Linked DNA regions of Homo sapiens: regions 2 and 3 are each linked to region 1. The links come from fine-mapping of genetic effects on plasma protein levels. A gene starts in region 1. Each other region holds a variant in brackets. All regions are shown on one strand. Distances are between the middles of the regions.

Evidence for each region. PIP is the chance, under the fine-mapping model, that this variant and not a neighbour inherited with it causes the effect. Sun 2018 read protein levels with aptamers (SomaScan).
Region 2: its variant is fine-mapped to the plasma level of the VWC2 protein (Sun 2018, PIP 0.95).
Region 3: its variant is fine-mapped to the plasma level of the VWC2 protein (Sun 2018, PIP 0.95). The variant lies in the coding sequence of VWC2. If it changes the protein, the assay may bind it differently, which can mimic a change of level.

The regions. Positions count from the first base shown.
Region 1 is chr7:49,770,569-49,778,753 of GRCh38, reverse strand. VWC2 (von Willebrand factor C domain containing 2) reads right to left here and starts at 5,116. Exons shown (of 4, transcript NM_198570.5): 1 at 4,641-5,116; 2 at 2,623-3,421. The coding sequence starts at 3,318.
Region 2 is chr7:49,727,314-49,735,498 of GRCh38, reverse strand. No RefSeq gene overlaps it. Among named protein-coding and RNA genes, the nearest start is that of VWC2, 42 kb to the left of the region's middle. The variant TCACC/C (reference allele first, on the strand shown) is at 4,004.
Region 3 is chr7:49,799,600-49,807,784 of GRCh38, reverse strand. It overlaps VWC2 (von Willebrand factor C domain containing 2), which reads right to left. Exons shown (of 4, transcript NM_198570.5): 3 at 4,945-5,074. Among named protein-coding and RNA genes, the nearest start is that of VWC2, 30 kb to the right of the region's middle. The variant T/G (reference allele first, on the strand shown) is at 5,004.

The DNA of each region.
Region 1 (8,185 bases):
ATTTCTGTGCCCTGGTACTCAGCATCATGACAAATCTCCATTACTGCAACCCACAAAGCCCGTGGACTCACAACTAACCCTATACCATTCTACATTCATATTTTCAACATTCTTCAAAAAAAGCATTGCTTTCTCTTTTGTACATTGAAGGAAACAAAAATGGAGACAATAAATGGCTTGCACAAGGCCACGATAAATTAGCAGAATGCCTAGAAATGTTCCCGATACTAACAAAAATGAGCAAACATGCTCTAACACTATAAAATCTTTATGTAGTTGACATATTGTAAGAACAAGCATATAATTAAAAATATGTAACAACTTTGCAACGTTCAAGCATGTGTGCATCCCAGCATCTGGTAATAAATGATGAAAGTTTAGAATGAAACGTCATTTGAAGATGGAAGATGCACTTAATATTCCAAAAATAGCTTTACTGGTATTTTAATTCTTCCTAAGATTGTAATCTTTCCAATTTCCCTTTTGTCAATATCATCTCCCATCCTCAGAGTTTGAAAACACATTCTACCTATGGACTACCAAACAGGTAGCAAAGAGGAAATTAAATGAGAGATCCCTCTCCTCCATAGACAAAAGCAGCTTCATGGCTGCTAGCATTTAGCATGAATTGTTAAGACAGAAGTTTGAATTATTTCCTTTACCTGTGATCTCAGGTAGGTAAGTGGACACTGAAGTATTTGGGCTTACTAGATCAAAGTGCTACTAATTCCTCAGTTTACTTCTAAGGACAATTCCAGAAAATTACTATGAAACTATAAATAGTGCAAACAACAAAAGGAATTAATTAAAAACCAACTGCTTATCTTTGACTTTAGAAGAGCCGATGATGTTACCAATTCAAAACTTAAGAGAATTGTTCTAGTGTTCTATGACCCTGCTCCAGGCCAAAATGGAAGGCCCCTCCTCTGAGCTCTTCTAGCACCCACAGGTTCCTTTACCTGGACACATTTGCCTGTGAACTTTTGTTCTGCACCCAAAACACCTGGAGAGATATCTACCAGACCCTCCCGTAGGCAGGAAGCATTTTGAGGGCAGGGTTTCTGATTTAGTTAATTTTGCATGGCCTGGGCGTGGTTCATATGAGTTGCTCATCCCAGTTGTCTTTCTCCAAAGGGCTGCAGTCAAATGTGAGTACTTAAGCAATGTATGCCTGGAGTTATATTTTGCTACATGAGCCTAGGGAAAGCTGGCCCCTTATCTTACAGATAAGAGAAAAGAAACCCAGAGGGCATATGTCTTTTGTTCCAGTCCTGCAGCTGGTTAGTGGTAAAGCCAGAATGAATAACCATGTTTCCTGACTCTAAATTCCAGCACTCTTTCCATACTTTGTACACTATATATAGATCTGTCCTTCCTGGCTTTGTACTTATATAACACTTGATAATTCATTGCCACAAGTCAGTAATTACATGGGCTTCACATCCTGGGAATTAGCAGATCTCACAGGCTAATTCCAGGAGGGGTATTCCAGCAGAATTCCTCCCTAAACCTTTGCTTTAGTAGCTGCACGTTCCATAACGCCCTCTGCAGGTGGGAAAAGGACAGCTATGGCCTGGTAAGTCAATGGGCTAAGTCCAGGCAGGCCATAGGTTGAACCTACCTTGAGGTGTTTGGAATAACTGAACACCTGTGCAGGTCTCTCTCAGGCCCCTAGCCCACTGGCAGAGATTTTACCTAGAGCCTGTGCATGCATGCTGTGCAGCACCTTCACCCAAACTAAAGCCCCAGTGGAGCTGGGCTTTTGGTTCAAGTAGAGTATAAGGGTTAAAAACCTAAGCTATGGAGTAGAACTGCTTAGTTTGACATATGAATCTGTTTCTTAATAGCTGTTCTGCCTTCAACACATTATTTAAATATTCTGTGTCTGTTTCCTCTTCTCCATAACATGGAGACAATGGATAATAATCCACCTCCTAGCATGGGATGAGATTTAACTAACGTACATGAAAACCAGCGGGATCCTGACGCACAGTAGGCATTAGAGAGATGGCCGGTATTATTAACATTACTACTACTCATCTGAAACAAAACAATTTTTAACCATTAACTGCACTTGTTGGTTTCACCATCCACTATGATTTGGCACCCAGTGAGCAAATATTTTCTTTTTCTTTTAATTTTTAGAACATTTGCATGATACCCTAAACACATAATCTAGGGAAATGGCTTTTTATATGAATAGTCTCCCTTAATTAGCTATTAGTTGAAGAATATATCCCAAATGGTACCGTAAATTACCCTGTGTTTGAAAGCAGGTTAAGAATTTCACCGACAACATTCCCAAATTAGGAGCAGTACATTAATGTTGAAAGTCCCTCCGATACCTGTTGGGATCCTTCCCTTCAGTGCCATAGGCTTCATCCTCATGAAGCCCTTTTAAAGTGAACACCGAAGGAATCCCTATGGATTGGCCACAGTGCTCTGGGAAGGATTACCTCTGCCCTGAAAAAGAGAGGTCATGTCAAAGGGACGTGAGCACAGTGCTCTCCACCTCTCAGAACCAGAGAGCACCTCTTCTTCAAAGTGGGGGACCACAGAACCAAAGCTGTTCCACCCCTTCCTGGAAGGTGCAAAGTCGCCCGGCGGGCGTTCGCATCTTACCACGAACTCCTCCAAAGTCTGATAGGTCTTGCCCCGGAACTCGCAGTAGTTCTTCCTCTCCTTGCACTGCGGGCAGCACTGGCTCGTGTCGACGTGGATGCAGCGCGGGTGCAGCCTCGGGCACTCGGGCTGCGCGCACAGCGGCCCCTCCTCGGTGCACAGGCACGGGCAGGCCGAGGGGCCCGGCGCGAACTTCTCCCCGATCGCGTACACGAAGCCGCTCTCGTCCACGCAGCCCTTGCCACGGTAGTCCGGGTACACGTACTCCTCGGGTGGCTCGGGCGTGGGCGCGAGTTCCGGGCCAATCGCGTCCTGGGCGGCTGCGGCCAGGGCTTCCGCCTGCGGGGTGTCCCCGCGGGGCCGGACCTGCAGATCCCCGGCCTTGGCGCCCCCGCCCTGGGAGACCCAGGCCTGCTTCAGCTTGCTCCACGGCTCACGGCCGGCGAGCCCACGGCCGCTCTTGCTCTTCCAGTCCCGGCCGCTGCCGCCCTCGTCCCTCGCCGGGCGCCCGAGCTCGTTCACCCGCCCCGGGCCGTCCCGAGAGGCGTGCTCACGCTTCTCCTGGCCCGGCTGCTCTGGTGCCTGGGCCAGCTTCTCCAGCGGGATGCTCGGACTGCACAGAGCCACCATCAGGCAGCAGGTGACCAGGAGGGAACTGGAGAGCGCGCCAACTGCCATCGCAGTGGAGCTGGGCATCCCCTACCACGTCCCGGCGGGCGGGCGGGCGGGGAGCGCGGCCGAGGGGCGAGTCGCATTCACAGCCCGGGGGCGCGCCGCCGCCAGCCGGGAGCCGCCGTCCCTGCGGAGAGAACAGCAGCACAACTGAGCCCCGCGGCCCGCGCGCGCCCCGGCCCGCCGCGGCCCCCACCCGGGCTCCGGCATAGCTCTAGATTAACGAGCTGGGCGACGGGGGCGGGGGCAGCATGCCCAGCGTCGGTGCACGGCCGGGGTTCTTAGACATCACAAACTGTGGAGCGATACATTGGAAGCGAAATCCAAGAACGACACCGGCCGGCGTGTTTCTGATGTAGTCGTGATTAGTGTTGGAGATGGCCAAGGGCGGCTTGCGGAGCCCAGGGAACGCAGCGAGCCAGGCCCGCGCCCCCCTGCAAAGCTCTGCCTTGAACCACGTAATTCAGGCACCCAGGGTGTCCCTCCCTAGGTCCTGGCCACATTTCCCGAAGGTTATTAAATGGAGAATTCAGCAGTGGAGTTAGAGACGGACGAATGTACAGGAAGATAAGAGGGAAACTCTTCCTCATTTGCTTTAGGGGGTTGTGCTGGGAAAATGCGGGGAGGTTAAACAAAGCTTCTCCTAGGACTCCACGATTCATTTCTAACAACTTCTTAAAAGACTCCCGTCTCGGGAGCAGACGCCCCCTCCCCGCTCTCTAAGCCCCGCTGCATGAAAGGATGCCCTCGGCCCCTTGCCAGAGGGCCGGGTCGGGGATTCCCGGGGCTTCAGCTCCTCTGCCGGCCCGCCCCTCCGAGCCTTGGGAGCCAGGTCGCCGGCCGCAGCGCTCAGTCTTGTAGTGTCCTGGCTGCGGAGCAGAAGCGCCCGGGCAGCACCAAGGTGTGCAGTGCGGGAGGCTGGGGCCCCAGGGCGCAGAGTGGGCGCGAGACCCTCCTACTCGCTGGATCCCGGCCAGCCTTTCTGGATTCCAAAGTTTCTGCCGCCCAAAGGGGCTGGGAGAGCCCGAGACGCCGCAGGACACCGGCAATCCAGCCTCTCTCCGCCTCACTCCCCGAACGCCCCCACTCTGCGCACTCCGGTGCGTCTGTCCCCTCCCCCTCAGCCCTCCTCCCTGAGGGCTCCGGACGTGCCCGGCCCTGCTGACCCCCTGCCCGGTCCCTGCCGACCTCAACACTGGGCGAAGCGCCCATATTCACAAACTTGGGCGGGGGAGGGGGTTCCTCCGGAGCAGCTGAGCGGCTGAACCCAGCTGGAGCGCGTCCGGCCGCGCGGGGACACCCAGCATGCACCCTCAGCCCTGAAGACCGGCGCCAAACCTACATACATGAGCGCAGGGCGCGGGCCGGACGCCGGGCTCGCAGCGGGCGCAGGGGTAGCAGCGGCGGGCGCGGGCCCGGGTTGCCAGCGCCCATCCTGGGCCGGCCGGCGACCCGCGTGGGGCGGACCACTAACAGCCCAGCCCCACCTGCGCGCTCCGCCTGGCGCGCACACCGGGCTAGGGCGTCTCTGGGGAGTCGCTCATCGCGCTGTCAGCTGCCGGTAGTCGCGGCCCCAACTCGCGTCAGTGCCCGCGTCGCCCTCAGTCGCTCATCCTCCGGCCTCGTCCCCGCTTCTCCGAGACCAAGCGCGCCCCGGGGGCCACCCTGGCGCCGCCTCGCTCCTCTCCGCGGAGGGGTTCGGGGAGCTCTCCAGACCCGGCAGCCGGAATGTCTGGGCAGCCGTGGCGCGTCGGAGGGAAAAGAGAAGCCCGGAGCGCGGCCGGCGCGCGAGTGGCACCGAGGCCAGCATGGGAGCTAGCGCGCCCGCCTCCCGCCTCCCCCTGCCGCAGCCGCCTCCGCCCGGCTCCCGTTCCGCTCCCTCCTCTGCTGCCCCCGCTCTGGAGGCCCCGCCTTGGCCCGCGCTGCCCCGGGGGAGGCCCTCGCGCTGCCCCCGGAGAGGCCCTACCGCCGCACCCGCTCCCTTTGCTGCGCCGGACCAACCTGTCACTCGTCCGCGCGGCCGCGTCCCCACCTCCGCAGCCGGCCGCAGACCCTGCCAGGGCTGCCATTCTCCAGTCGAGTCATTCACTTTGCGCTGGACCTTTCATCTTGGCTTTTCTCTTTTCTTTAATTTCTTCCTTCCTAATTGGCCCCCTCTGGCTTTCCTCTTTGTGGACAGCTTGTTTCAGCTACTGTGTTCAGATTGGGATTCGAAGGCCGTGTTAGTTTAGCAGACTGTTGAGACTTTCTCGTCTTTGCATTCAGAAACCCAGAGAAATAGACGTTTACGAGTAAGAAACGTAAAAATCTCAAGCGCGAACTTTCTGAATCTCTGCCAATCTCTCCCCGCTCCCATCTTCCTCTTTCTGCCTGCTCTCTCTTCTACTACAAATAGAAACCTGTTTCCTAACTTTGCTAGAATCCTCAACTGTTAAGCAGAGGCCCGGTTGTTTTTACTCTTTGATCTTGTGTAAACGAGAAAACGTCAATAGTACCTGTTCAAATTAATCCCCGAAATTGAATTTTCATGGAAATGGCCCATGGCAGTGGTTCCCACTCACGGCATTTTAGAATCCCTGAAAGTGCTCGGACGGTAAACAGATAAGCTTCCCTGCAAGGTCAGGCGCTCTGGCTGGTGGGAACTGGGGAGGCTGGTTTGGGACACAGTTATGTCTATCTTTTAATAGTATAGACAAACAAATCTTAGCTGAGGTGCTAGGGAGCCCTCCTTGAAAGCCTGAGAAGGCTGCCCCTCCACCCCCTCCAACACATACACAACCAACAGGGCTGGATGGAGGATTTCTTTCTCTCTCTCTCTCTCTTTTTTTTTTTTTTCAGACGGAGTCTCGCTCTGTGGCCTAGCCTGGAGCGCAGTGGCGCGATCTCCACTTACTGCAAGCTCGATTCCCGGGTTCATGCCTTTCTGCCGCCTCAGCCTCCTGAGTAGCTGGGACTACAGTCGTCCGCCATCACCCCCAGCTAATTTTGTTTTTGTATTTTTAGTGAGACGGGGTTTCACCATGTTGGACATGATGGTCTCGATCTCCGGACCTCGTGATCCTCCTGCCTCGGTCTCCCAAAATGCTGGTGAGCCACCGCGCCTGGCCTGGATGGAGGATTTCTATGTACAGGATGATTTGAGCCCTTCTGCTGTTTCAGTTCTCACTCTCATTTTTCCTTTTTTTTTTTTTTTTAATGTTTTAGAGACACGATCTCACTTTGTCACCCAGGCTTCAGTGCAGTGGCATGATCACGGCCCACTGCAGCCTCAAACTCCTGCCTCAGACTCCGGAGGAGCTGGGTGTACAGGTCACCACACAGGGCTAATTTTTTGTTTGTTTGTTTTGTTTTGTTTCGTTTAGGTTTTTTCTTTTGTTTTTTTTTTGTTTTTTTTTTTTGGTAGAGATGGGATCTTGCTTTGTTGCCCAGGCTTGTCTTGAACTCCTGGCCTCAAATGATCCACCCGGCCTCTCAAAGTGCTGGGATTACAGGTGTGAGCCACCACACTCGGCCCTTTCGTTTCTTGTTACCCTCAGAAAAGAGACAGGCCACATTTGCTGTGGCTGCAGCTGCCTACCCACCCACCTGCCTCTCATCACATGCTCTAATCAGTTATGGCTTCTGTGTCTTTATGATGCTCTAATCCAAATATCACACCTTTCACAACACCACCAAAATAAAAACACGGCTCGAGGTGTGATCATATGTAATGTGCAAAATGGGCCCTCGGTTCTATAAAATCAAGTGCTTTTATAGCATTGGTTAGGCTACAAATTTTGTTATTTGACTTATTAGCTAATTCTGTTCTTGTCATTAAACATCCTGTTTGTTTTGTTTTGCCAACAGTACTCTCATGTGGTTACGATGGGGTAGCCCCAAACACATGTGACTAATAAGAACGAAACAGTAACATTATGTGTCCAGGATTCTAACTGAAAAATTGATTGGGGGCTCAGCTGAGGAAATAATGATGTCCCTTTATTAATCCCACCTCAATCACCGGTCTCTCTGAATCAGAAACTTCTTGTCCCAGCCAGCTGCTTCCAGTAGAGAGCCATGAATATGAGATAGCCAAGTTTTCAAGAAGAGGCCTGACAAAACTGAGGATGAATTAAGTGACCAAGTGTCCAAATGGCTTTGTTCTGTTAGATATTCTCAGAGATAGTGTTACAGGCCTGATAGAATGAGGGAGGAAAGCAGTTTCCAAGGGATTGCTGTCCTTTGTGAAGAAGAGCAATACCCATGCAGCTTGATGAGCTGAGTAATTCGAGAAAATATAGGGGACTTTGCAGGCGTTGAAGGAATATACAATTTATTTATTGCCAGTGCAATGAATTGTTGCGATTAACTTTTCTTCTTTCCTTCCTTCTTTGTTCCTTTCTTTCCTTCCTTCCTTCCCTTTGCCCTCCTTCTCCCCTTTCTCCCTCCCTCCTCCGTCTCTCTCCTTTTCCTCTTTCTCTCCCTCATTTCTTTCCTTCTTTCCTTTATTCCCTCCCTCCCTCTTTCCTTTCTTCCTTTCCACTTATTTTCCTTTTCCTTGCTTTCCTTTCCCTTCTCTTCCCATCCCCCCTTTTTCCCTTCCCTTCCCTTCACTTCCCTCCCCTCCCCCTCCCCTCCCTTCCCCTCCCCTCCCCTCCCTTCCCCTCCCCTCCCCTCCCTTCCTCTCTCCTTCCCTTCCCTTTCCCTTCTCTTTCTCTCCACTTCCCCTTGTTCTTCCCCTTCCCTTTTGCTTTTCCCTTCCTCTTTACTTTTCCATCCTTTCCTTTTTTCCAGGCTAGAGTGCAAGGCAGGAGCAGAAAGATCTCTGGTCAGGGACTGAAGTGACATGAGTGTAATCCAAGTTCCACCAGGGGCCAGTTTTGCAACTTTGAACAAGTCACTCAGTGTTACA
Region 2 (8,185 bases), 43 kb after region 1:
GTTGCCCTGCACAAGCTCTCTTTTTGCCTGCTGCCATCCATGTAAGATATAACTTCTCCTCTTTGCCTTCTGCCATGATTGTGAGGCCTTCCCAGCCATGTGGAACTGTGAGTCCAATTAAACCTCTTTCTTTTTTAAATTGCCCAGTCTCGGGTATGTCTTTATCAGCAATGTGAAAACAGACTAATACAATATTCTTCTTCTTGTGCTGTGTTCTGAATAATTTTTGATGATCTATATTCTTTTTTTTACTAATTTACTATATTTATGTCCAATTTCAATAATTTAAAAAAAATTTAAACTTTGAGAATGAAATGTATGAATTTTTTCCAAATCTACCAGTTCCCTTGCCCCTTAGTTATATTTCAAAACACCACTTTTGTTTTGGGACACAAGTTATAAGTATTTAGTTTCTATCTCCATTCCTTTTAATAACTGCATTATAAGTCTTTGCTTTTATGCACAATACATTGTTTTCTGGCATGTTTTGTAATTTTTTTCTTTGAGTGATTGAATTTTTTTAGAACAGTTCGGAAATTTATCTGTGGGTTGAAATACATACACCTTAAGGACATTTACTTCTGTCAATTACCTCTAACACCACCAACCCAAGACTACGTCCAGCTAAATTCTTCATCTAAGGGTTTTCAGGCACTCAGGTAGCACGAATTCTGTCTATGTACTCTGGTTAGGTTTGATGGGACATTTAAAAAAGGTTCTCCATGCAGCCTTCAGCTTAAAACAGACATGTTTCCTGTTATCTTATTCTGTGTTTCAGGGTTGCTTTGTTTTTTGGTGAATCAACATTTAACCTGCTGGCGTGATGTTCATGTCCCACCTGTAAACATAGGTCACCTTTTAGACTCCCAACCTTGCTCCCACCCTAGCTTTCACCACCTGTTTCTTGCAGAAATATTTTAAGGACAATACTGTTTAAATAGAAATTCTTCATGTTGCTAAGATGTGAGCCTCTCTGCCTTTCCTAAGAAGTCTTCAGTCAAGTTGGTTTAGTAGCTATTCTAGTTTTTTTGTGTGTGGCATTCTGTTCATATGTATAAGCTGAGACTCTATGCATGTAAGACAGATGGAGAGGACATTTGTAGGATTTCCAGACATCAACTATTAATTAATTATGTCAGTGAAAACAGGAGTTCAGAGCCAGAGATAACCTTAACAATGTCAGGCCTTTGAGAAATTTTCAAAAATGTTATGGAGAGCTTTGATTGCTATAGGCTGTAAACTATGTAGTATAAAATGTTTTATTTTATTTTAAACTATTTTAAGGTGTAGGGAACCCATTGAACTTTAATAAAAAATCATTTCCCAATATGGATTGTAGTTTTTGCTGTTTTTAAAAATTTTTTTGCCTCAATCTAATAATCTATTGCAAATGTTATATTCTGTTCTAAACTACTTGTGTATTAAAACCAGCTGCATCAGTTTGGAAGACACCATTTTTCTTTAACCCCTTGTTTTTGTTTATCCAGTGGCTATCAAAATTGGTGATAATGATCAACAAATAAAAAACCCTGGGAGTTATTGTTGGATTGATTGCAATTGAGTTTAGTTATATAAATTATCTTTCTTTCTTCTGTGAATTTGAATGAGGAAGATCTCTTTACACAATTTAGTATAATCACATTTCAAAATAATTTTTTAAACGTGAGCATATAATGGATTATAATTCCTACAGTACAGAATAACTAAAGGAAATAATTACTTTTATGAATGAAAACATTACCATAGGAATTATAATCTATTGACAAATAGTTCATATAATCCAGTGACAAACATCTCATGTTCTAACATTTGTTTGGATCTTTGTAAGTTGTAAAGTGTTACAGAAATGCTAGATTTTATTTAATTCAGACACTAATTTGGCCTTTTTTTCAAGCCTGTTGTTAATTGCTTTAGAAGAACCAAATGCCTGTCATCAAAAAGAAAATATAAGCAATCAGGCCTTGTGTAAGCATAGCAGGTGCAGAAAACAAAAAGTACTGGATGATGCCTAGCCACCAGCTTCTCTCTTAAAAAGACAATGTTAGAATTCAGTTTGTGATGGTACAGTATATTGAATGGATCTGCTTTGAATCGTTTGTACCTAGTTCAGGAGCCAATTTGCTTAATTGGGGTCATGTGTCTATTGTCTTAAAAAAACCTATCAGGAGAAATAGTTAATTTCTGAGGCAAATGGTATAATGTATGTGAACGTTATTTAAAAACCAGTCATTATATGAATATAAATTATTATTATAAATATTTCCATCAAAATATCTTTTGGTTCCTGAATTCTATCTGCAATTATTTTTCTTGATATCCAAATTTAAAATTCAACTATCAGAATTGAATGGTTTAACCTTGTTATACTTTCTGATCAATGACTGCATCTCAATTTCTTGATTGAAATGTTCATGATAATAGAATTATCACTTATTGCAATAATAGTTATTTTCAACTGCAGAAAATTGTTTTATTCTCTGCTCTATCCTAAGGAAAGTCAGCCTATAGATTAATGTTAGAAGCAGCACTTCCTCTCGTTTCTCCTTGTACACTCCAAGGCCACAGCCTGGGTTCTGTACTCAGACTCAACATCACGTAATTGATTATGAGGATATGAAAAGACACATCAAGATTAGTGTATTAAATGTTTAACACCAAACTATTTATAGTAGCAGAATATTGTAAACAACCTCTTTGTCAGTTTATATGGATTAAATAAAAGTTGATATATCCATATGTTAGAATATTATGTAGTGATCCAAATATTTAGGAGGGATTTTAAAGAGATTATATGCATGACATCATTTTCATTGAAAAAGTAGTAGCCAGGATCATTTGTACATTAGAATTTCAATTTTGTATAAAAGATTGGCAAGAATGCTGAATGGAATATACATAAAATGTTTCAATGGGTCTCTGAGGGGTGATATGTAGGTGATTTAAAATATTTTTTATACTTTTCTATTTTTTTCTATATTTTCAACAATGATCACCTACTGTTTTTATTATCAAGACAAAAGAATAAAATTTCATTACAAAATGTAAAGGATCTCTTCTGAGATGGACATCAGCTAATTATAGGCAAATCCAGCTGGCCACTTGAATTTCTAAATAAAATTTGATTGGAACACAGCCACTCCAATTTGTTTCTGTATTGTCTGTGGCTGCCTTTGGACCACAGTTGTAGAGTTGAGTAGCTGCAATGGAGACTGTGTGGCCCACAAAGCCTAAAATATTTACTATCTTGATTTTTACACAAAAAATTTTCTGATCCTAATTCTACAATATCACCTTGCCACTAATCTCATCCAGCAATTCCTATTGCCATATCTGAGAAGCCCTCAGCCAATGTTGCTCCTCCCTAAATGCTTGCTTATTTAAGACAGGTTCTTCTCCATGCAGACACTCACTGTAACTTTTGCGATCTTAGAGTCCACTCCTGCTCAGTCAGCCACTTCCAAGAGCCTCTGAGAGCCTGTTCACCAATTGCGCTCTGCTTGTAGCCATTGCTATCATCTGAGGACTCACATTCAGGCTCTTTGTGGTTGATGCTGTGCCTGGAATTCTTGTCCAGGCTTCTGCTGTTATGGAAGCTGGTGCAGACCCACTTACCTTTCCTGGGTTACCTGGATGCAGCCACTGCATGGACTTCTCTGTGTCCTGCTGAGTTGTATCAACCTCTTCATTTCTCTTCAAATGTTTACTCACTCTTTTTGGAGCCTAGTCTGTCTACCTTGAGACAACCCCATTTTTCTTGGCTGCCCTCTGTTATCCTCAGTGAGGGTTTTGCTACAGGATAACCTGTACCCAGGCACTAGAGCAATGAAAAAGAATCCTGGAAGTACATTAGGCACTATGGACTCATTGGCAGTGGGGGAAAAATTGATTTTCCTATTCACAAGGAATGTACATGGGTATTCACTATTTAATTTAAAAACAAAAACAAAACAAAACAGTAAGGTAACACACTAAAAAGGAAATATTGTGTTTCTGCTTGACTCAC[TCACC/C]TACATAATTCAAATATGCTCCAGGTACTTTCTATACATTTTTCCTTTTAATTCTCCTAAGCACTCTGAGTATTATGATCTATTATGATATTTTATGGATTTCCTGGTGATAAATCAAACCTCTGAATGTTAATGCCATGAATTTAAGAACTCGCTATGCTGACTGATGTCAGGTCTTACACAAATGAGCTTTTGGGTTGTGGCCTTCCTTTAGAGATCCTCTCTGGACATTTTCTTGCTAATAGGACCATCTTTCTCGGTCTGTGGAGTTAGGATTTTTAGGCTATGTGAATCCAGCTTAGTCTTTAATGACTAGGAATCTTTCTCATCTGATTTATGGAAGGTATTTTGTATTGTTTCTAGTGTCTCTCATTTCGTTTTTTCACAGCTTTATTAAGGTATAATTGATGTATAAAAATCTGCACATATTTAATGTATACAATTTAATGAGTTTGCACACGTGCATACACCTGTGATACTATCACCACAACCAAAGTAATAAATACGTCCATGACCTTCAGAAGTTTCCTTATGTTCCTTTGCTTTTTTTGTGTGTGGTAAGTACACTTAATGTGAGATCTAGCCTTGTTTTATTCTGTTTGTCTTGCTATAAAGGAATACCTGAGGCTGGGTAATTTATGAAGAAAAGAGGTTTATTTGGCTCATGGTACAGCAAGCTGTACAAGAAGCACGGTGCCAGCATCTGCATCTGGTGAGGGCCTCAGGTTGTTTCCACTCATGGTGGAAAGGGAAGGGGAGCTGCCATGTGCAGAGATCACATGACAAGAGAAGAAGCAAAAGAGAGAGGGGAAGAAGATGCCAGACTCTTTAACAACCAATTCACAAGGAAACTAATAAGAGTGAGAACTCACTTATCCCCTCCCATGAAAAAAGGGCATTTGTCAGTTCATGAGGGATCTGTTCTCATGACCCAAACAACTTCCATTAGGCCCCACCTCTAACATTAGGATCAAATTTTAGCATGAGGTGTGCAGGGACAAACATCCAAACTGTTGAAACCCTCTTAAAATTTTGAGTGTGCAACACTGCATTGTTAACTATAGGCACCAAGTTGTATGGCAGACACTAGACCTTATTCATTTGTTTATCTGGGACTTTATACCCATTGTGCAACTTCCCATTTTCCCCAAACCCCCATCTCCTGGCAATTATCATTCTGTTTTTCTTAAAGAAATATCTGCACTCTTTAATTTATAACAGCATTATTCACAATAGTGGAATACCCTTCAACTCAACTGTCCATCAACAGATAAATGGTAAATAAAATGTGGTGTATTCCTTAATGAAATATTTTTCAGCCTTAAAAAAGAAGGAAATCCTTCCATTTGTGACAACATGGATAGACCTGGAAGACACATCCTCAGTGAAATAAGTCTGTCACAAATACTGCGTGATCCTACTTACATGAGGTATCTAAAATATCAAACACATGGAAGCTCTTCTTTCATTTTGCATAAAGCTTTCTGTGTTTTTTATATTCACAAGTCCCTATTATTTGGTTGTCCTGACATCATATGGTGTCTATAAAGGAATACCTGAGGCTGGATAATTTATGAAGAAAAATTTATGACACCATGTGGTGTCAGGACAACCAAATAATAGGGATTTATGGATATAAATCCATAATAATAATCAATGTATATTGACTCATTGATTAGTATCTGATGGAATTGTCGCTCTCCTTCAGATTTGGTTTTGGAATATTGTGTCCTTACCACCCATTTCCATATGCCCTGGGAAGAAAGGTCATTGATGTGGCCTTAGTTTTCTCTTGCATCCATCAGTTCTCAAGGTTTTCTTTACTCTCTAAGAATGAGCTCCTCCCACCAATCCACAATTTGATTTGAATTTTGCATATGTACTCAAAATTCTATAACACATTGCATTATCATTATGAGTCAAGAAATAAAATGGAATTCAGAAACATTTTGAGCTTTGTCAATGTCATTAGAAGAAAATACACAGGAAAATAGAAAATGTTCAGAGAAGCTCAATATTACCTCAGCATTCAGCCTCCCTGAAATCCCCCATGCTCAAGTAAGGTCTATGCTGAGTTATAATAACTGCTGAGCCTTGTAGACTCTCTTTTGGTAGCTGCTCCTTCCACACCATCTTTTATGTATCAGAAAAGATACCTTTTCCAACAATAGTAGACTTTTTAAGCACCCAAACCACACACAAGTTTATCACAATTCTCTCTTGAGAAGGAGAATGGCAACATTGCTGAATATGTATTTTATTTTATTTTATTTCTTGACTTTCCTTTTATTTTCCCAGATTGACTGCAATTCACTCACCTACGCTCTTAAGCCATTAATCATCCTTATGTGATATTTTTTCGCAAGAAGTGATGTCATGCCTGCATCCATTATTTAAAGTTGCCCTTCATATATCTGATTATGGACATCACATTCAGAAACAAATGCAAGATGGAGGTGTCATTTAGCTGAAGTCAGGAGAACACCAGATGTCCTGATGTTTGCTGCCCCTGCAATGGGTGTGAATTAAACTACACTTTCTTCTCTAGCACTGAGTTGAGGTAATGTTTTTACCATACCGGTCACTCACTCAGTCTGTTTTCTGTTTATGCCTCTGTAGGCATTGTCTTCTTTAGGAAGAGACTGGAGGATTTCTTTTGACTGAACTATCCAACAGCCTGCTCAGCACTCACTTCTATTGCAATGAGTAGCTAACCATGAGACCTTCCCTGAGACTCAGGCCAGGAGGTGTTGAGTGGTCTACTTAGCATAAGATGAAAAAGATGGAGAAGTCTGGGTGCAGTGGCTTACACTTGTAATCCCAGCACTTTGGGAGGCCGAGGTGACTGAATTGCTTGAGGCCAGGAGTTCAAGACCTGCCTACACAACATGGCAAAACCCCATTTCTACTAAAAATACAAAAATTAGCCAGGCTTGGTGGCACATATCTACAATCCCAGCTACTTGGGAGGCTGAGGCATGAGAATTGCTTGAACTGGGAGGTGGAGGTTGCAGTGAGCCCAGATCGCACCACTGCACTCCAGCCTGGGTGACAGAGCAAGACTCTGTCTTAAAAACAAAAACAAAAACCAAAACAAAACAAAAAGATGGAGAAGGATGGTACCTGGAAAACCTGGTAGTTGCTTTAGGAGAAGGCTCATTCTTCACTAGAAACTGGTCCAGGGTAACTTTTCTTATCTCTTACTTTGTCATATTAAGGTTTTTGGAACAGAATTATTGTTATTGGGATTAGTGATATTTTAAGGAAAGTGTTGTGGTTGGTTCTCAACAAGGAAGGCTAGCTGAAAACAGTCATATTGTAAACGAAATGATATATGACTTGGAGTGCTCACTGAGTCCAGGGCTTGCCCCTTAGCCCCTGGGCACTCAACGTTGTCAGAATCCTAAAACTAAGCAAGCTTGAGGAATGCAGAATCATGTTAACCAAACTCCAGAGAGAAAGAATTTTATACAATAGATACCAGTTATTCATCTGGAATTTGGAATAAAATAATGCCCAAGGACCGGATTTCCCTGTGGCATACATTGCTGGAGCCTCTACTCCCTGAGATCAATAAGTGGCATGGGAAGCCTTGTAAGTCAGAAGGTTACTTCTTGAGCTCAGAACTGAGATGATTTTATTGGCTAGGCTATCTTCATGCCTCCACGTTCACAGAAGGGGTTTATCTTTTTCCATTAGCAGAGTGCGCTCAACTCCATGGCCGGACACCTCCTTCTATGGGGAGGATACATGAGTCCTACAAAGTCTGCTTCCCTGGTTCTTCATTTCTAATGCTTTCATTGCTGACCAAACTTCTTGCAGGAAACTTTCCCCCTCTGAATTCAATAACATCTCAGTCAATTGTTTTCTTCACGTTCAGTCTCATTATATGAATGTATATCTTGCTATCCTCATTTCTTATATTTTTGTCTGTAGTAATTCTCAAAAGACAGCCTTAGTATAAGTTCAAGGTCACAGAGTTAGGGTGATGGCAGGGAGAAGATTTATTGCTGCCTCAGATTAGAGAACACCTTCCTCAGGAGGGGAAAAGAAAGATGCAAACGTGGGTTACACAGCCCTTCAACCCAAACAAAATTTAAAGTATATGCATCATGCATTTGCTGTTATTTCATTTTCCTTCTATATTGTGCCTCACTTCCTAGTCCCTAAATCCATCC
Region 3 (8,185 bases), 29 kb before region 1:
AATTTTAAAAAGTTCAATTTGTAAATTATTTCCTTATGTTTAGTGCTTTTAATGTTCTTTTAACCTTTGCATACTCAAAGTGATAAAGCTGTTCTATGTTTTCCTCTAAAAGCATTATTGTTTTAGCCTTCATATTTAAATCAGCAATCTGTTTGGAAATGATTTTTTGTCAAATGTGAGGTAGCAATCATGATCTCTTTTATCTCCATACTGCTATTCAGTTGGTCTAGCACAATTCACTGGAAAGATTACTCCTTTCCCACTGTCCTGTGATGTCAGGTTAGTCACACAGCTGGTGGTCTTACATGCACAGGCCTTTTCTGACTTTGTCCTGTTCCATTTGTCAGTCTTTCTTTGGGACCAAACCACAACGGGCTAATTACTATCTCTTGGAGTGAGTCTAAATATTTGTACATTTTCCAGCTTTGTTGTTCCTCTTGGATATTTCTCAAGCCAGTCTTTAGCTTTTGTATACCATTTGGATTTTAGAATCAGTTTGATAATTGCTACAGAAAACCATTGGATTTTTGGCTAGAATTTTGTACTGAATCAATAGATTACTTTGAAGCAGACTCACATCTTTGTGTTATTGAGTCTTTCAATCATGAACATGATATATCCCTCCTTTTACTTAGGTCTTCTTTAATTTCTCTCAATAAAGATTCATGTTTTTTAAGTATGGAGACTTTTCACAATTTTGTTAGATTTACTTCCAAAAGTATTTGATTTGTATGATGTTATTTGAAACTCTAGTTTTTAATTCACTTCTATTTCTTTCTGGTATACAGAAATACAGCTGATTTTCAAACACTGATCTTGCTAAACATCCTTGTTAAAATCAACTGTTCATTTTGATATTTGTAAATTCCTTTATTTTTTATGGGCACAATCACGTAATCTGTAAATAATCACAGAGAATTTTCATAAAATTTGTATTATTTCCTTGGTAAGAATTTTGGAAGGATTCAATGGTGAGACCACATAGGAGCAGGCTTTTCTTTGTGAGAGGATCTTGATATGACCACACACACACGCACACACACACACAAACACACACACACACACCATTCCGTTTTGTCTAACCCACTGCATGACATTTACTACCATCTTATCCTACTCTATGAAATACATAGGAAAACAAACAAAACTCTGCCTAATTCTCAGTCAGTGCTTCTTACATATTTTCCCATGAACGTATGTTTAATAATTTGACGTCTCAGTGTTTATCTTTAAAGTGTCATAAATGTTTTTCACTTTCCTCCAAAAAATGTTTTCCTGTAAAAATAAAGCTGCAAATAATAATCATCAGGTGGCAGTAATACTTCAGGGAGATATACAACCTTTATATCCAGTGGCTTTGTGCTTTTGGCATATGTCGTATCCTCCCTTGGATACCATATTCCACCTTTGAGAAGCACAGCTAATTCTGACAAAGTCCTCATATTTCAACACCAATGTCCTACTTTTATCATTTTTCTTCTTTGGATCCATAAAGTAAGATGACATGTATACTTGCAGAATGGAGGTCTTCTGATCGCTAATGGGAGCCTAGTGCCTACTTAATGCAGACAAGCATGTCTAAAACTAAGGGGTTTGATCGGAATGGGTGCTGTGCACCTATCACCAGAGAAAAGCTGAATAGTTGAAAGTCAAATAACACTCACTGTTTGTATCATTGTGGGGGGGTGGAATTTAAAAACAAATAATGCCATGCAACATCCATTTTATCAAAAGAAAAACACTGGGAGATTGATCTGCACAAGTCAACAAAGTGAATATATTAAAGTACATTTGATTTGTGATCATTTATTTATATTCAAGGCATTCTTGGTTTCCAACTTCTGCTCCTTTGATGCAAGTGACTTTGGCAGCTAGCAACTGAACTGTAATTTTCCTTCTGTCGGAGAAAGAGCTATTTAATGCTACAGGTCAAGACATGCCAGAGTGAGGAGTAAAGGCTGGTCTACGGAGATCAAGAGTTAAAACCTTCATATTTCATCCAAGATAAGTCTATCCAAGCTTTTAATTTCATATAAAGCATTCATTTCTGATGTCCTCTAATCTGTGATATATCAAACATATAATTTTTTTACAAGAACATTGTTTATGTGGGGAGGCAGGGTTGGACTACTGTAAATTATTCATTAATCTCAGTCAGTTATTATAGAGCATTTGTTTTTCATAGAAACTGTTTTCATTTTTCAAGCAGCTCTCTTTTACTAAGAATTTCAAACCCCATTTTCCCTGTCAAGGTCAGAATACCCTATAACTAGAGACAGCTGAAAGCCAAGCTCTATCTGGTGAATAAAAGAAATGTAATTGTATGTGCATGATTAGATACATTTAAATTTATTTCCAGTTATACTCCCCAAAATAAGTTGTTGATGTTTTGATATAACTGCATCAAGCCTTATAATAGAAGTCTTTCTGTAATATAAATCTAGCTTTAAAAAACATATTCATCTCCCTTCTAAAAATCTCTAATGGGCCACCACAAAATCTTGCCTTATTCCATCCCATACTGCCTCTCAAAATATAGAGTTAAAGGGTCAACATTTAGAAGTTTACCATCAGGACAACAACCATCTCCCAAAACCATCAATGCAATATTAAAACAAACTGTGAATCTCTGGGTATATAATATTTATAAAGTGTTTAGTTTTTGTACATTTTTTTACTCAAAAATATAACTATATCTTAAATGAAAAAATTGAACACAGAAATAAATTACTTCTTTGTAAATTTAACATTTCTGCACACTTTTAAGTATTAATTCAAGTAACTGCTCAATGTAGTTCTCTGACTGTATGCTCTAAGAAGGATAAATCCTAAGGGCAAAAGAAAAACTCTAAAAAAATCTTGAACACTATTCAGTAGGTTTCAGGTTGGTGGTAGTCTCAATAGAATTTGTGCCATGTGTCTTATGGGAAAGAAAAAATAAGTAAATATATTGATGGTGTTGGGTTATGTATATAGAGAGATGGGGCAGGAGAGAACCAAAGACAGAGGGCCAAAGAAAGAGACAAAGCAAATACGGCAACGTGTTAGCAACAGGTGTAGCTAAAGGTATACAATTGTTCACTGGACAGTTATTTCAACTTTTCTGTAGGTTTGAAATTTCTCTAAAAGCAAGAAAAAAAAATCCAGGGGTTGAAATCCTGTCTTCTCACCTATTGTTAACACTCAAGCTAGGATTCCCGGCTATCTAATGCCAAGACTTAGTCTATAATCAAAATTTACAGGAAAAACATGGAATATCTTGGGTAGTTAAGACGCCAAATATTTAAGCAACCCATATTTAAGCCATTCACTAAACCCCTTGACGCAGTGAGAGTTGTTGTCGTCCAGTACCCCCGACATGCAGGGCACATGGCCTGAGCGCCAGCCCTCAGCTCTCCCAGCAGACCAGAGGCGCTCACTCGGGCTCCTCAGCGGGTGTGCTGAAAGCCACACCGAGACTCTGCCAGATTCTCCATCTGCCTCTCCTTCCCCAATCCCAGAGTCTTCTTCCCCCTTTATTAGTGTTAATTAGTGGTAATTAACACTAGTAGAGTAAACTGTATTGATTTCCCTCCATCTCACAGCTGGTGTCTCAACATCATTTTTTTTTTTAAAAAAAAAACACACTCCATGCTCAAAGTCCCCCTCGTTCTTGTCTAATGGAATCCTACCTCAGGATTTCTTCATAATTAACATGCACAAGAGACCAGCCAACCCTATATAAAGTACACTCTGTGACATCTTTGTTTTAACACTGTCCACTTGCCTTTGGAGGACTGGATGTACTATGCTACAATGATTATGACATTCCTAACACAGTCATCTTGTTCTTTCAGGTCTATCCTTCAACAGCAACATCATTCCCTCTTCCAATTATTTACCTCAAGAGTTTTACAATGTGTTGTAGTAAAATCTGGATATGTACAGGTACGTGGTCGAAGGTACCCATGGAACCTCATGGCCCGCACAATTTCGACTGTCATGACAGACTCTGGGAATTGTCTGAGCACCATGACCACCCCTGTGTCACCATCCACCAACACATGCCTGCCACATACCAAACCCATGCCACACAGCTATCAAGCCTCGGTCCAGCAACCCACATGAACGGCCGACAGCATCACAAGTTAGCTCTGAATGCTCTCAACCAGGGGTCCCCACAGCATACCCTGGGCAACATCCAGAAAGCCCAGTCGCTCCTGTCAGCGAGGCCACTCAGATCCTTGTAGACTCCGGCTGTGTCCCCTCTGTCCGCTGTTTCCCAAGCTCTGCTCAGCCTCTTGTCAAACTGCCCTCCGGGCCATAATTCTCAGGCCCAGCCAGCCTGGGTATGCACTCTTGTCAAAAACCGTCTTATAGTGTAATGCCCTCAGTACCTCAGGTACAGAGTAATCATCGTTTGTCAGGATGAGGAAACACTCTCCCATGACAAATTAGGATCAAGGACATCCTGCCACTTCATTTTCATAAAGTAAGCAAGGCTTCTGATCTACCAGGGGCTCTCACTGGGAATAGGAAGGGACTCTCTTCCTGCCTAATTTGCTTATGAAAAATATTCAATTATGTTCCAAGTTTCATTCACTTAGTAATGAAAAGTAAATGAGCCCAACCAGTGTGTTTAATGTGTCTTGGAAAGATAGAAACAGCTTTGCAAGAACAAACAAAGTTAAATTAAAATAAGTGACTCTCCTCAAAGGTGGAAATTGAATTTCTCCCCAAAGAACTTCTTAACATCCATAAAACATGGTGCTGATGCCAGTAAGAGAGAGAAGGCCTTGCTACAGAACCACTGTGGCTGAAAGATTACACACGTGTGTACGCATGTGTATTGATACATAGGATGAAACTCACGTATCCGTATGTGTCCCGTCTACCATGAAGCAGCACATGGGTTGTGCATCAGGGTGGGAGGTGCACCCCGTCACCAACGGGGATCTCACATACCATTTTTGCAGATGGGACAGCACTGATCAGGCTCGTACACAGGGTCCACACACTCCGTC[T/G]GGGGACACGCTGACACTGTGCATAGCACCTCACCGTTGGCTTCACAGCGACACCTCTCGCATGGAGACACCTGAAACACAAGCCCACAATCAGCACTTTAGCCTGCTGTCATGTTTATCCTACAGGGTCATATATATTTTTTTGAAATGGAGTCTCGCTCTGTCGCTCACACTGGAGTGCAGTGGTGCGATCTCGGCTCACCGCAACCTCTGTTTCCCGAGTTCAAGCGATTCTGCTGCCTCAGCCTCCTGAGTAGCTGGGATTACAGGCACCCACCACTATGCCTGGCTAATTTATGTGTTTTTTATAGAGATGGGGTTTAACCATGTTGGCCAGGCTGGTCTTGAACTCCTGACCTCAAGTGATCTGCCCGCCTCAGCCTCCCAAAGTGCTGGGATTACAGGAGTGAGCCTGGCCCTACAGGGTCATACTTTTCTTTCCCTAAACTTTCTGCGAAGACACCTAAGTGTTTTAGGAATGTTTAAAAAATGATCCAGCCCAGTGGTTTTCAGAGTGTGGACACAGGCATGCTGGGTGTTTGGTGAGTTGTCTTAGGTGCAAACGCACAGGACGGGCCACAGGGCTATGATGTTCCCTCTCCTGTCCAGCCAGAGCCACTGTTTAATTTGTGGTCTGCATATTGGGTTTCTTATTAAACTTTTTTTTGAAGAAATGTTTTTCATCTCTTTAAAAATTAAACAAATAAAAACTTGCTGCTGAGTTCTTGCCCATCCCCTCACCACGTAGGTGAATCCCTTGTCTATAACCCTGTCAAGTCACCACCCAGACTCACATGGAACACTCCCAGTGTTTCCAGTTACGAAGACACTGGAATAGGAAAGGGGAAAGGGGTGAAGGAGGAGAAACAGGGTGGCATCCAAGCGGGGCCAAGGGCCGGGAGCTCTATGAATATTCCCTCACTGAACTTTTACAGCAGCGCTAAAATACACGTACTCAAATTACTGACCCTTTGTACTAACAGGAAACTGAGACTCAGAGGTGTTAGGCAACATGCCATGGGCATGTCTGTCCTGTGAGCACAAGGTCCTCTTCCACTGAGGGCTCCTGACTGCGAGTCCATGGTGATTCCAATTTCCTCCAGGTCATTCTGCCCACTATCCAGCATCACGATGCTCTGTTAGAAACCAAGCTTCCATTTGCCTCTCTCTACTTTCCAGCCATGGGCTCATACTCTGCCTTCTTGAGCTATCCAAATCAAGCATACCAGCCATTCCCAAGAAAGCTGTACGTGGCTAACGGGACCCTCCATGGTCACTCACACAGGGCATGGTGATTTATCTCCTGGTTACCACCAATGGAGTGATTTTTGATCTGGCTGACCCAGGACAAAGCAGGAAGAGCATATGCAGACCCAGCCATCAGAAGCAAAACTGGGAAGTGGGGATACTCACTAGAAAGACCATGGAAATGGGGGACATGGAAATGGGTCGTATCAAGCTGAGTTCCTGCTTTGCCAGGGGCAGGGAGACCCCAGTTGAGTTGTGTGCCCCACGTCCATGATACAAATACCGCTTGTAAGGTAAAGAACATGAGTAACTCTCACAGATGCTCCCTTTGTCTATACAATGCAAACACTAAAAACTGAAATCTCCACTGAGTGGACTGGCTATTACGAGAAGCAAAAGCTCAACTGGAGTTTAACCATGTCTCTTTCTGAGGCACTAGACCACAGTCAACCTGCCTGGGAGTGAGGGCTAAGGAGTGTGTGTATGTGTACTTGGCCAAAAAAATGTAAAAAAGAAAGGAAACTTTGAAAAACTTTAGTGTAGCCTGAGACAAAACACTGACCTGGTTGGCAATGTAGCCTTAGAAGTTAAAATCAATCTTGAAGTAATATAAAGGCCTGTTTTTGAGATGAGTTTCTTTTGTTGTTGTTGGCACAATTAGGTTTTTTTTTTTTTTTTTTTTTTTGCTACCATAACCAGTGGTGCTCTTTATTGTTGCTGTCATCATTGTGGGTCTCATTTCCTTGTCTCCTACCAATTCCCTCATTCAGTCTGTAGCATTTTTGTCTCAAGGGGGATATATACATAGCAAGCAGAATGAGAACAGAATTCTGAGTTTTAAAAGCCAAGACCTTGAGTTGCAAGAGACATGGTTTATTGCATGTCAGAAGCCTTCAGCTGGAAGGACTCAGAGCATAAGCCCTCAAGCCCAGGTGGTGTGGATTACATGATGGAGAGCCAGAACACCCTGCCCCAGGGGAGGGGAGCACCATCCCCCTATAGAGATCAGGATAGTCAGCAAGGAGCAAGCGGGTCAGATAGTGAGGTCTGTCCTCACGAAGCAGCACAACGTGGCATCTACTCCTCACCTAGGCATACACCAGGGAGGGAATAAAAAGCACCATTTCCATTTGGGAATTTAAAAGAAGGCCAGAGCACACCCTATGTCATATCGCCGGGGAGGGCCCTGGAATACAGCAGGACCAGAGATAAAGGTCCAACTGCAACGTCAAAAAGGCTCCAGGTCCTTAGGCAGCAGGCGCTGAATCAGCCTCGTCCAGCAGCTTTCTGCATGAAGGTGCACACCTTGGCAAATGGAGCAGAGATCACTGGCCTGGAAAAAAAACACTTCTTACTGCCACTGGAGCTGAAATTTCATTGAATCCATGCCACAGAATACTGCTTAAAGGCATGCACACAGGCCAGCATGCTATTTTCTCAAAGGTTTTGTAGCTTTGTAAAAAATTTGATTGTCAGTTATATTGTCATTAAATATTTAGAAATCCTGATTCAGCCGCACTCATGTGCCCCATAACTGGGTCAAAAAGGAACTGCATATACGACGTGGTCCCATGGATTACAATGTCTTATTTTTACATATCTTTTCTATGTTTAGATACAAAAATACCATGTGTTATAACTGCTTACAGTTTTCAGGACAGTAACGTGCTGTGCAGGTTTGCAGCTTGGGAGCAATAGGCTATACCATATAACCTAGGTGTGTAATAGGATATACCATATAACCTAGGTGTGTAATAAATAGGCTACACCATCTAGATTTGTGTAAGTTCACTTTATGATGTTCACACAATGATAAAATCACCTAAGGATGCATTTCTCAGAATGCTTCCCTGTCATTTAGTGATGCATGATTGTATTTGGAGATTTGTTCACTTCTAAAAAATCAGAGTTGATGCTTAGAATTAGGATCGCCA